2 separate regions of the Homo sapiens genome follow, and region 2 is linked to region 1. Evidence: fine-mapped expression QTL. A gene starts in region 1. The other region holds a variant in brackets. All regions are shown on one strand. Distances are from middle to middle.

Region 1 (5,381 bases):
AAAAAATTAATCCACTTCAGAAAGCTGGTTGTTCCTCTGCTTAAAGCTAGTGGGGTCATCACAAAAAAGACTGGCTTAATCAGAAAAAAGCAAATCCATCACGAACTCAGCCGAAAGATGGTGATTTGATTTTATTCATCATGCAACCAGTCAGAATTTGAAAAAGGCATATAAATTAAAGCCAGGATTCAAATCCAGGCAATTTGGCTTAACCACATTGATACAATTGCTGATCGATGTATTCTTTTTTTTTTTTTTTGGGACGGAGTCTCGCTCTGTCGCCCAGGCTGGATGCAGTGGCACGATCTTGGCTCACTGCAACCTCCGCTTCCTAGGTTCAAGCAATTCTCTGCCTTAGCCGCCTGAGTAGCTGGGATTACAGATGCCTGCCACATTTTTTTGTATTTTTAGTACAGACAGGGTTTCACCATCTTGGCCAGGCTGGTCTTCAACTCCTGACCTCGTGATCCACCCGCCTCAGCCTCCCAACATGCTGGGATTACAGGCATGAGCCACTGCGCCTGGCCGATATGTTCTTTATAGAAGACGCCATACCTCCTCATCATCAGATCCAAAGAGGTCAATGTCATCATCATCTTTACTATCTGTAGCTCCACTTCCTGTAGTGTCTTCCACATCGGCAGGACCATATTTGCCCAAAGCTTTCTTCACTCCTGGCAGGCTTGAAAAACATTTAAATTCAACCACTATTGAGCTAGTATAACATCCTTTTCCAGAAAATACAAAATAACTTGTTTTAATCACTACTTATCACTAGATCCCTTTTGCAATCATAATTTACCCTTTCACATGCGCCCAGGTAAACACTGTCATATGTTCAACTCCTCACCCGACAAGCATTAGTACCATGTGAGACATTATTTTCAATACTCACTATGATTTACTCTTTCAGTATGAACATTTCTGTTTGAGATTTCATTAAGTATGCTCAGTTCCATTCTTAGTGAACTGGAGTCCACTTCCCCAAACTTCCACCCTTGTTGGCAGTTTCAGAAGAATGGCCAAGGACTGAATGAATGAGCCACCCTCTCACCCCAGAGGTGGGCCCCCCAGGTCAAGGTCGAGGCACATTGGCAGGGCAGTGTGGGGAAAAGTTGAATTGCTGCTGTCCATGTTCTACCTGTTCTGTGAAAAAATGGAGGGCTTCAGTCTCTTGGCCTTCTAAGGTTACAGAAAAATTTAGCTTACAATATCCCAACAAAACTAAAGTAGCCTGGGTCCAGTTTTGTCATGTGAACATCCTGATAAACTTCGAGAGCAGTCTTATTCTTCAGCTCTATACAAAGATGATTTTACCTGGCCTTTTCCTTTTCGTAAGACTTGATGTGATTATACCAACGTAGGGCATGACACAAGTCGGCAGGCGGTGGGCTGGACACGGCTTCAAATACTGCCACATCTGCTTGTGATGGCACATACCTGCCAAGGACACAGAAACATTCACACACACCTTTGAAAAACAAACGCCAGCGAATAAATAATAAATACCGTATGCATCACATTAATTAGTGGGCACTAACCCCAGCAGGGTTGCTTTAATGCTTTTCTTTTCTTATTAGCTCCTTCAAATCAAACCATATGTTTGGGTCACCGCGCTATCCTGAGAAATGTCTGCCACTAAGTAGACCTCAAATACTGCAATGTCTGGCGTTGCTCTATCTACAGCTTAACATGTATTAACTGGGCAGCGATGCGGAAACACCTGGCTGAATTAAGTGTAAATAAAGCACATTTTAACCTTTCCTTGCTCGTGAACCGCTCCCCGGAGGCCGGGCTCGCCCCACACGAGGGCCTTGGGAGACGGCAACGGGGCGCTTTCCCCTCCCTCTCGAAAGGGCCCCGGGCCCGGCCTCCCTCCCTCCCGCGGCAGCCGACACGCTGCGCCACGTGGCCCCGGCCCCGGGCGGAGAAACCTCCCCGCCACCCCGACTCAGCCCGTCCGCTCACCCCTCGATGTAGCTCTTGTCCGCCAGGTAATCGTTGAGCACCTGGAGGCCGGCAGGGCTTTTCAGGTCTCCGAAACCCATGGTGTCGGCTGTATCCGAGAGCTGGGGAGCAGCAGAAAGAGAGCGCGCAAATTGTGGGCGCCCCACGCTGAAGAGAGGAAAAAGGACCCGAAGAGACCGGAAAATTCCTTATATAGAGACGGAGGCGTTTCCCTCCACCGCGCCGGACCGAAGGTTAAAGGTCAAAGTACTTTTGCATTCCCACTTCTCCACGTACGAATTGGGGGCCCTGAATTAAATGGCCCACAAATTGTCCATGGACCTTTCGTTGCGTTTGGAAGTAAATTAATAAAATAGGCATGTCTTAAGTTCGTACCTCCACGGCTCCCGAAGATGACGGGAACCAGCCCTAGAAGCGCCGGAGATGACCGAAGACGCCCGGCCTCGAGGCTGGGGCCACTTCCGGCGGAACTGCGGGTCCAAGTTGTCCTTCCCGCCTCCGGGCTGGGCCGACCTCAGCTCCGCCCTCTGGTCGGCTGACGGAAATTGCCGACAAACTTGTCGAATGCAAGGATTCTAGTCCCTCCGGGCTTTCCGTTCTCCAGGCCCGGCTGACAGAGTTAGCCGAGGCCGCCATATTGAATAAGCGACCCGGCCTCCTAGGGGGTCGTCGTGGTCCAGACAGTTTAGCAGAACAGCCTCCGCGGCTCCGGGGAGAAGGTGAGGTCTTGTATGGATGGGAAGGGTGAGGTGCGTCGGCCAGAGGCTTATTTATTGACGGGACTGTTTCCTTTGGCCCACGCGACGTAGTCTTCTGTTGTCCTTGACTGGGCGCCGCCTCCCGCCCCGCCGCCTCGGAAGCCCCTGAGAGCCGGCAGATGGGGGGCTTTTAGCCACGGTCTCTGGTCTGATGAAGCAGAAAAGAAGATGAGGATCAGGGGGTCCTCGGGAACGCTGTCACGAATGTAGGCTTGCAGGTGACCTTCCCTCTGCAGGGAAAATTCAGGACATTTCCCTCTCAGAGGAGGAGGCCGTTTTATTCCCCGGGAGAGGACCAGTGTCCGATGACTTAGGCCTTAAGACTAAGCCTTTCCCCCCAGATTTTTACACGCCTGATACAGTGCATGATTGTTTGGTCGCTGTTGTGTTAGCAATGGCTCACGCTTCTGTTTGTTGTCCTTGTTTGTTTGGTCCATTGACCACGTTGGACAGCATTTTTTTATTCCTTTAACTAACGGGAAATTGAGAAAAACGACTTTTGAAAAGTTAGCCCAGGATTGCATTGCAAATAACAAAACGTTGTTTACAGGTTATTGGGATCCAGTGCTTGAACTGTAAGGTCTTGGATCAGACACAACTCTGTTCACACACGAATTGACGGTATAGAAGTGTAACGTTAACTGTTTTTGATGAATAAACAAGTTATTTTTGTTTTGCGGAATATTCTTGTTTTCACCGACTTAAGGCTGCCAGAGCACCTGCACTTTTTAAATCCGGGAAAGTGGTCTCTACAAATTAACGACCAGAAATTAGAGATTCAGTTCACTTAACCGTTATTGAACATTTACTACGAGCCAGAAATGAGTCCGTAAAGAAGAATAAAATGGATGATATGCTGGGGGAATCGTAAATGTTAGATAGCCTGGTCAATGAAACTGAGAAAAGGCTTTTAAGCCAAGATTTGAAGGATAAGGAGGGGCCAGGGAAGAGCATTTCAGTCTGAGGTCACAGCCGGTGGCAAGAGGGGAGAGGCTGTGTGGGAATAGTGTGGAAGCTTGGTGACCTGTTAAGCTATTGAAGGCCGGAGGCGGTGGCTCACTCCTGTAATCCCACCACTTTGGGAGGCCGAGGCGGGCGGATCACGAGGCCAGGAGATCGAGACCATCCTGGCTAACACGGTGAAACCCTGTCTCTACTAAAAATACAAAAAATTAGCTGGGCGTGGTGGCGGGCGCCTGTAGTCCAGCTACTTGGGAGGCTGAGGCAGGAGGCTGGCGTGAACCCGGGTGGCGGGGCTTGCAGTGAGCCGAGATCGCTCCGCTGCACTCCAGCCTGGGCGACAGAGCGAGACTCTGTCTCAAAAAAAAAAAAAAAAAAGCTATTGAAATACTCCAGGCAAGGAGTGATGGTGGATTGGGATAGGGTGGTACCTTGGAAGGCAAGAAGTAAATGGATGGATCCATGTTGGAGAACGTGGAATAGCATAGTCCCTATATGGAAAAGTATCCAGTCTAGTTTAAGAAATGATTAGTCATTAACATTTTCCATCCAAAGAGATAATTATTTCTATTGCTACTTGGCATATCAATGTTCAAAGCACATATCGAAGTGTTGCAAATCTGTATTTCTTATGTTGGGCTATGCTTTGTTGCTGGATGTCAACAGTCTAGTTCTAGTTGATTTCCTATCCAAAGTGAGTACTATTTTTATATTGCATTGGAGATAAAAAAGTATTAAAGTTTTAAAATTGTATGAAATACTGATTGTTGATTTCAAATCTGTCAGTGCTCTAATGGAGTAAGTTTAGGTTTATATTTATGCCATCAGTAGTTTTTAATAGGACAGATGCTACTCTAGTTCTAGAACTTGGTGATAAGACTGTTTGGTGGTTATTTTCATAAGGGTCCTGTGCTAGGTCTTCAAAAAAGGGAAATGTCCAAATTCCTTGTCCTCAAGGAGCTTACAGTCTGGTAGGTACTAAAATTGATTACTAACCTACAGTTTAGTAAGTAAAACAAAAATATCTACACAGTGTGTACTGGTACTAAAGAAAAAGAGCTCAAAGAAAGAGTGCTTTAAAATTGGTTGTCTGCCAGGCGCGGTGACTCACGTCTGTAATCCCAACACGTTGGGAGGTCGACGCGGGTGGATCACTGAGGTCAGGAGTTTGAGACCAGCCTGGCCAACATGGCGAAACCCCTTCTCTACTGAAAATACAAAAATTAGCCGGGCGTGATGACAGGTGCCTGTAATCCCAGCTACTTGGGAGGCAAGAGAATTGCTTGAACTTGGGAGGCGGAGGTTGCAGTGAGTCAAGATCACACCATTGCACTACAACCTGGGTGACAGAGTGAGACTCTGTCTCAAAACACACACACATACTGATTGTCAGTGGCCAGTATTGCCTAAGTTGAATTCAGCTTTAACTGGCATTTGTTGAGCCCCTACTAATAGCTCATTGTCTAGGAAGTATTGTTTTCCTCCTGCTCTATAAGTAAAGAACCAGAAACTCATTTACCCAACATTACTCACTAGCAGGAAACAGATTGGATATTTGCAATTTCAGTATCACATATTCTTAATTAATGAAATTTATGAATGAAATTTCCTGTTGTACATCATCTATGATAAGTATGCAGAATTTTGTGCTTAAAACCTATGTATATGTACTATTATTCAATAATACTATTGCAA
Region 2 (5,381 bases), 62 kb after region 1:
GAGGTAGGAGGATCACTTAAACCCAGGAGGTGGAGGTTGCAGTGAGCTGTCATTGCCCCACTGCACTCCAGCCTGGGCAACAGCACAAGACGCAGTCTCAAAAAAAAAAAAAAAAAAAAAAAAGGAAAAAGAGAAGAGGAGAAAGAGGAGAGGAGAAAGAAAGAAAGAAAGAAAACAAAACTACATAAACTGTCTGTAATAACACATTTTGACATCATGTACTCCCTGATAGGACATCATGTCTGAGATTCTTGCCAAAAATATATTAACTCATCTAATCATGAGAAAACATAAGACAAGCCCAAACTCAGGGACAGTTATACCAAGTAACTGACTAGAACTCTTCAAAAATGTCAAGGTCATGAAAGACAAGGAAAGATTAACTCTCTGGAAGAGAAAAAGGACATTAGGTCAAATGTAGTGGCTCATGCCTGTAATCCTAGGACTTTGGGAGGCTGAGGCAAGAGGATCACTTGAATCAAGGAGTTCAAGAGCAGCCTGGGCAACACAGCAAGACTCCATCTCTACTAAAAAATAAAAAATAGCCAGGCATGGTGGTTCAAGTCAGCAGTCCCAATTACTTGAGAGGCTGAGGTAGGAGGATCACTTGTGTCTAGGAGTTCAAGGCTGCAGTGAGCTGTGATTGTGCCACTGCACTCCAGCTTGGCAACAGAGTGAGAACCTGTCTCAAAAAAAGAAAAGAAAAAAGAAAAAGAACATTAGTGGGAAACTGGTGAAATCTGAATATGTCTGTACTTAACAACAAGATGACAATAAGATACACTTGAATTATTTCTCTCTAGAATTGGGCTAGTCTATGTAATCTTAAGCAATTCACTTGCTAGTACTTGTTTTTTCCAATTGTTAAGATGAAAAGTGTCTGTAATGTGCTTTAAGATTCTTAGCTGAAATAGTAACAGTTATGTTGCTTACTGTTTTCATTTTAATAATTCTATTTTCCTTTAAGGGAGCTTAATTTTGGAAGAGTTAGTGTGCTTCAAGAGCCTTTTTTTTTTTTTTGACGGAGTCTTGCTCTGTCGCCCAGGCTGGAGTGCAGTGGGGTAATCTCGGCTCACTGCAACCTCCGCCTCCTGGATTCAAGAGTTTCTCCTGTCTCAGCCTCCCGAGTAGCTGGGATTACAGGCGCACACTACCACGCCCAGCTACTTTTTTGTATTTTAGTAGAGACGGGATTTCACCGTGTTGCCCAGGCTGGTCTTGAACTCCTGAGCTCAGGCAACCCAGCCACCTTGGCCTCCCAAAGTGCTAGGATTAAAGGCGTGAGCCACCGCGCCCGGCCTGCTTCAAAAGACTTAACATGCAGTCCGCGAGGTGGCTCACGCCTGTAATCCCAGCACTTTGGGAAGCCGAGGCGGGCGGATCACTTGAGGTCAGGAACAACCTGACCAACATGAAGAAACCCCGTCTCTACTAAAAATACAAAATTAGCCGGGCGTGGTGGCACGTGCCTGTAATCCTAGCTACTCCGGAGGCTGAGGCAGGAGAATCCCTTGAACACAGGAGGCGGAAGTTGCGGTGAGCCAAGATTGCGCCATTGCGCTCCAGCCTGGGCAACAAGAGTGAAACTCTGTCTTAGAAAAAAAAAAGACTTAACATGCCACAACATTATAATAATTTTGATGCAGTAGTATAGATTAATGAAAGTAAATATATGCTGGGCATGGTGGCACATGTCTATAATCCCAGCTAATTGGCAGGATTGCTTGAGCCCAGGAGCTCGAGACCAGCCTGGGCAACGTATTGAGACCCTGTCTCTACAAAAAGAAAAACAAAAAAATTAGCCATGCATAGTGGGGCACCTGTGGTCCCAGCTACTCACCGCTTAGGAGGCTGAAGTGGGAGGATCACTTGAGCCTGGGAGGTCGGGACTGCAGTGAGCCAAGATCTGCACTCCAGCCTGGACAACAGAGCACGACTCTGTCAAAAAAAAAAGAGTTCTTTTTTCTTTTTGAGACGGAGTCTCGCTCTGTCTCCCAGGCTGGAGTGCAGTGGCCCGATCTCGGCTCACTGCAGGCTCCGCTCCCCAGGTTCACGGCATTCTCCTGCCTCAGCCTCCCGAGTAGCTAGGACTACAGGCGCCTGCCACCTCGCGCGGCTAATTTTTTGTACTTTTAGTAGAGACAAGGTTTCACCGTGTTAGCCAGGATGGTCTCGATCTCCTGACCCCGTGATCCGTCCGCCTCGGCCTCCCAAAGTGCAGGGATTACAG[A/G]CGGGCACTTGCACCCGGCCGATTCATTGAGTTCTGTACTGAAAGACAGAATAGTTGTATGGTTACCATGGTAAAGCTGAAAAATCCTAAGTCAAACCATGGTAAATCAGGGACCATCTGTACTAAGTCGTCCAGTTTTTTTTTTTTTTTTTCTTTTGAGACACAGTCTTGATCTGCCGCCCAGGCTAGAGTGCAATGGCACGATATTGGCTAACTGCCACCTCCGCCTCCTGGGTTCAAGCAAGTCTCCTGGTTCAGCCTCCGGAGTAGCTAGGAGATTACAGGTGCCTGCCACCACGCCCAGCTAATTTTTGTATTTTTAGTAGAGACGTGGTTTCACCATGTTGGCCAGGCTGGTGTCGAACTTCTGACCTCAGGTGATCCACCTGCCTCAGTCTCCCAAAAGTGTTGGGCTTACAGGCGTGAGCCACCGTGCCCGGCCCAATCTTCCTGCCTCAGTATCCAAGTGATGGGATTATAGGCATGAGCCTCTGCGTCCAGCCAACACTTCATTGTAAAATGACTTTGTGTTTAATGATTCTGCCCAGTTGTAGGCTATTGTAAGTGTTCCAAGCTCATTTAAGGTAGGCTAGGCTAAGCTATGATGTTTGGTGGATTAGGTACATTAAATGCATTTTTTATTTAAGAATATTCCCAATTCGCAATAGGTTTATCATGATGTGACCCCATAACACCTGTACATTGTGGAGGCTTTTTGTTATTGGTTTGGTGTTTGCTTTTTGCTTTTATTTCAGAATAAGGAGTTAGCATGTGTGACATAGTAAGAAATAGATATATATGTGTATATATATAGAGAGAGAGATATGTATATATATGTGTATCTATCTATCTATCTATTTGGACTTTGTCCCTGATTTTTGACACAGAGCTCTTAAAACTGCCATTTCTTGAGTGATAGGGATGATAGGAGCGTCGTTTGTTCTAATATTTGGTCTCTGTCCCCAGTTTCCGACACAGAGCTCCTTAATCTCTTGGAATTTCCTGGTTGATAGAAGCATCTTTTGTTCTACTGAGGTTTCTTGCTGGGGCCCTAGATAGCTTCAGGATGGGGCCTGGTCACCAGAAAGACTAGACCTTGATGAGAAGCCTGGAACTTTCAGCCCATCCCCTCAATATGTGGGGAAGTGTGAAGAGCTGAAGACTGAGTTAATAATTGGTCATCCTGATTTGACAAAACCTCCATAAAAACCCCTAATGACAGGTTCAGTGAGCTTCTGGGTTGGTGAACACATCAAATTGCTAGGAGGGTGGTGTGCCCAGAGAGGGCGCGGGGCTTCCAACACCCCTGCCAATATCTTGCTCTCTGCATCTCTTCTGTTTGGCTGTTCCCAAGTTATATCTTTTATAAAGAGCCAGTAAATATTAATATAAGAGTGCTCCTGAGTTCTGTGAGTCATTGTAGCAAATTATCAAGCTGAAGGGGAGAAAGTTGTGGGAACTCCCTGACTTTGTACCCAAGAAGTGTGTGTGGGTAACCTGGGGACCCAATACTTGCGAATGGCATTGGAATTGAGGACTCTTTAAAACCTGTGGAGTCTGCTGCTAATGCTGGGCCGTTAATGTTAGAATTGAATTGAATTGTAGGATACCCCGTTGGTGTCCGGAAAGTTGGAGAATTGGTTGGTGTGAGAAAAAATTCACACATTTGATGTCAGAATTTCTGAGGAAAAATAGCTCGGCATGTAAAACCATAAATACACAAAATCCTTTCAGACAGCTTAAAAGAATGCACATGTTCCAAGTTTTCTGAACTCAAGTCAAGATAAAGAGATAGAAGCAAAAATGAACTCAGTAATGTATTACTCTAATAGTTTGATTCAGAGAAAATAAAAACTCCCTTCTAACAGGAAAAAAAAAAGACAAATGGCCTGCATAGTGCAGTTACGTGAGCTTTCTAATAATGCAAACGGCAGTCTGTTATTTCCCTACAATTTTTTTTCTTAGCTTCATTTCAGAGAGGACACAAACCGTAGAAATTGAATGATAACTTATCATATCATTGATCATCATTGTATGAAGTGTTCAGTTTGCAGCTCATAAATTTAGGTAACATCATTTTTCCCCTCCTCCTCAATAGAGAGAGACATAATGGTTACTGTCTAGCTCAACGCTGGCTTAACGGCCTCCTCTGAGGTTAATGTTAACATCATTCTGGACAGGGCAACAGGAAGCATCTGTATATCTTACCACAAAATGAGATGATCCATTTTCCCCCCATTTGAAATATAAATTCTGTTGGTATTAAATTACTTAATTGCTCTTGCTTTATATATACATTTAAAATATTTAGATATATTGTAGTAATAGCCTTAGAGAAAATTAAAATGACTTATGATTATGTAAATATTCCTTTAGTTTTTCCCAGTTGGTCAATATAGGTTCTTATTTTTTTTCTCTCTATGATTTAAAGGAAACTTGGGTTATGAAGGCTATTCTTACAATCTTTTTTTGTTCTTATGTTCTAGAACCACTGATGGTGACAACAGAACTCAGGGAATGTTAGTCAATTAACAGCTGCCAAGTTACCCAGAGAAGCAGATGGTATATCTGATCATGTCCTACAAAATGTGAAAAGGGAATACTCAAAGATGTTTGCTCAAATATGCTAGAGTTTCCACACAAAAGGCTATAATGGCAACCATATATATTTTTACATCTTCTATGTTTGCTTTTTACTCCAGGTGATTCTCTTATATTCCATTTTTAAATTTTTTGACCTGTACGGCTAGTCATCTTAAAATAACCTAGGATATGCACACGTTTTAAGTATCTTTGGCAATAGAAATGCACAACAGAAATATGTCAATAGAAAAGAAAAAGAATACTTAATACCACTCCCAGGTTTTTAAACTAGAGTATGGCCAATTGGAATATAATGCTTGAGGGTGGCTGAAATAACTAGAATTACACAGATATTTTGCTAATCATCTTGGACTTTTGTAGTGAGATGGTTAGAAAGTCCATGCTCAATTCCTCAGAGTCCTTCTCATTTAACCATCTAAAAGCCATACCTTAATTATCAAATAGTAAAGAATCCAAAATCTCAAATATTCATTAATCCAACAAATATTTACGGTGTATATTTCATCCCAGGCAGTGTTCAAGAGGCCAAATGAACAAACTAGACAAA

The links. PIP is the estimated chance that this variant, and not a neighbour inherited with it, causes the effect. A credible set is the group of variants that fine-mapping cannot tell apart.
Region 2: its variant is the best candidate, but not a certain one, in a credible set for the expression of NDUFS1 in lung (TOPMed, PIP 0.67).

Annotation. Positions count from the first base shown.
Region 1 is chr2:206,156,647-206,162,027 of GRCh38, reverse strand. It overlaps NDUFS1 (NADH:ubiquinone oxidoreductase core subunit S1), which reads left to right and starts at 2,584. Exons shown (of 19, transcript NM_005006.7): 1 at 2,584-2,687. EEF1B2 (eukaryotic translation elongation factor 1 beta 2) reads right to left here and starts at 2,133. Exons shown (of 6, transcript NM_001959.4): 1 at 1,969-2,133; 2 at 1,318-1,440; 3 at 556-682. The coding sequence starts at 2,048. SNORD51 (small nucleolar RNA, C/D box 51) reads right to left here and starts at 147; the gene lies at 78-147. RefSeq lists a silencer at 1,797-1,866 and enhancers at 2,127-2,386, 2,497-2,906.
Region 2 is chr2:206,095,127-206,100,507 of GRCh38, reverse strand. No RefSeq gene overlaps it. Among named protein-coding and RNA genes, the nearest start is that of INO80D, 12 kb to the right of the region's middle. The variant A/G (reference allele first, on the strand shown) is at 2,231.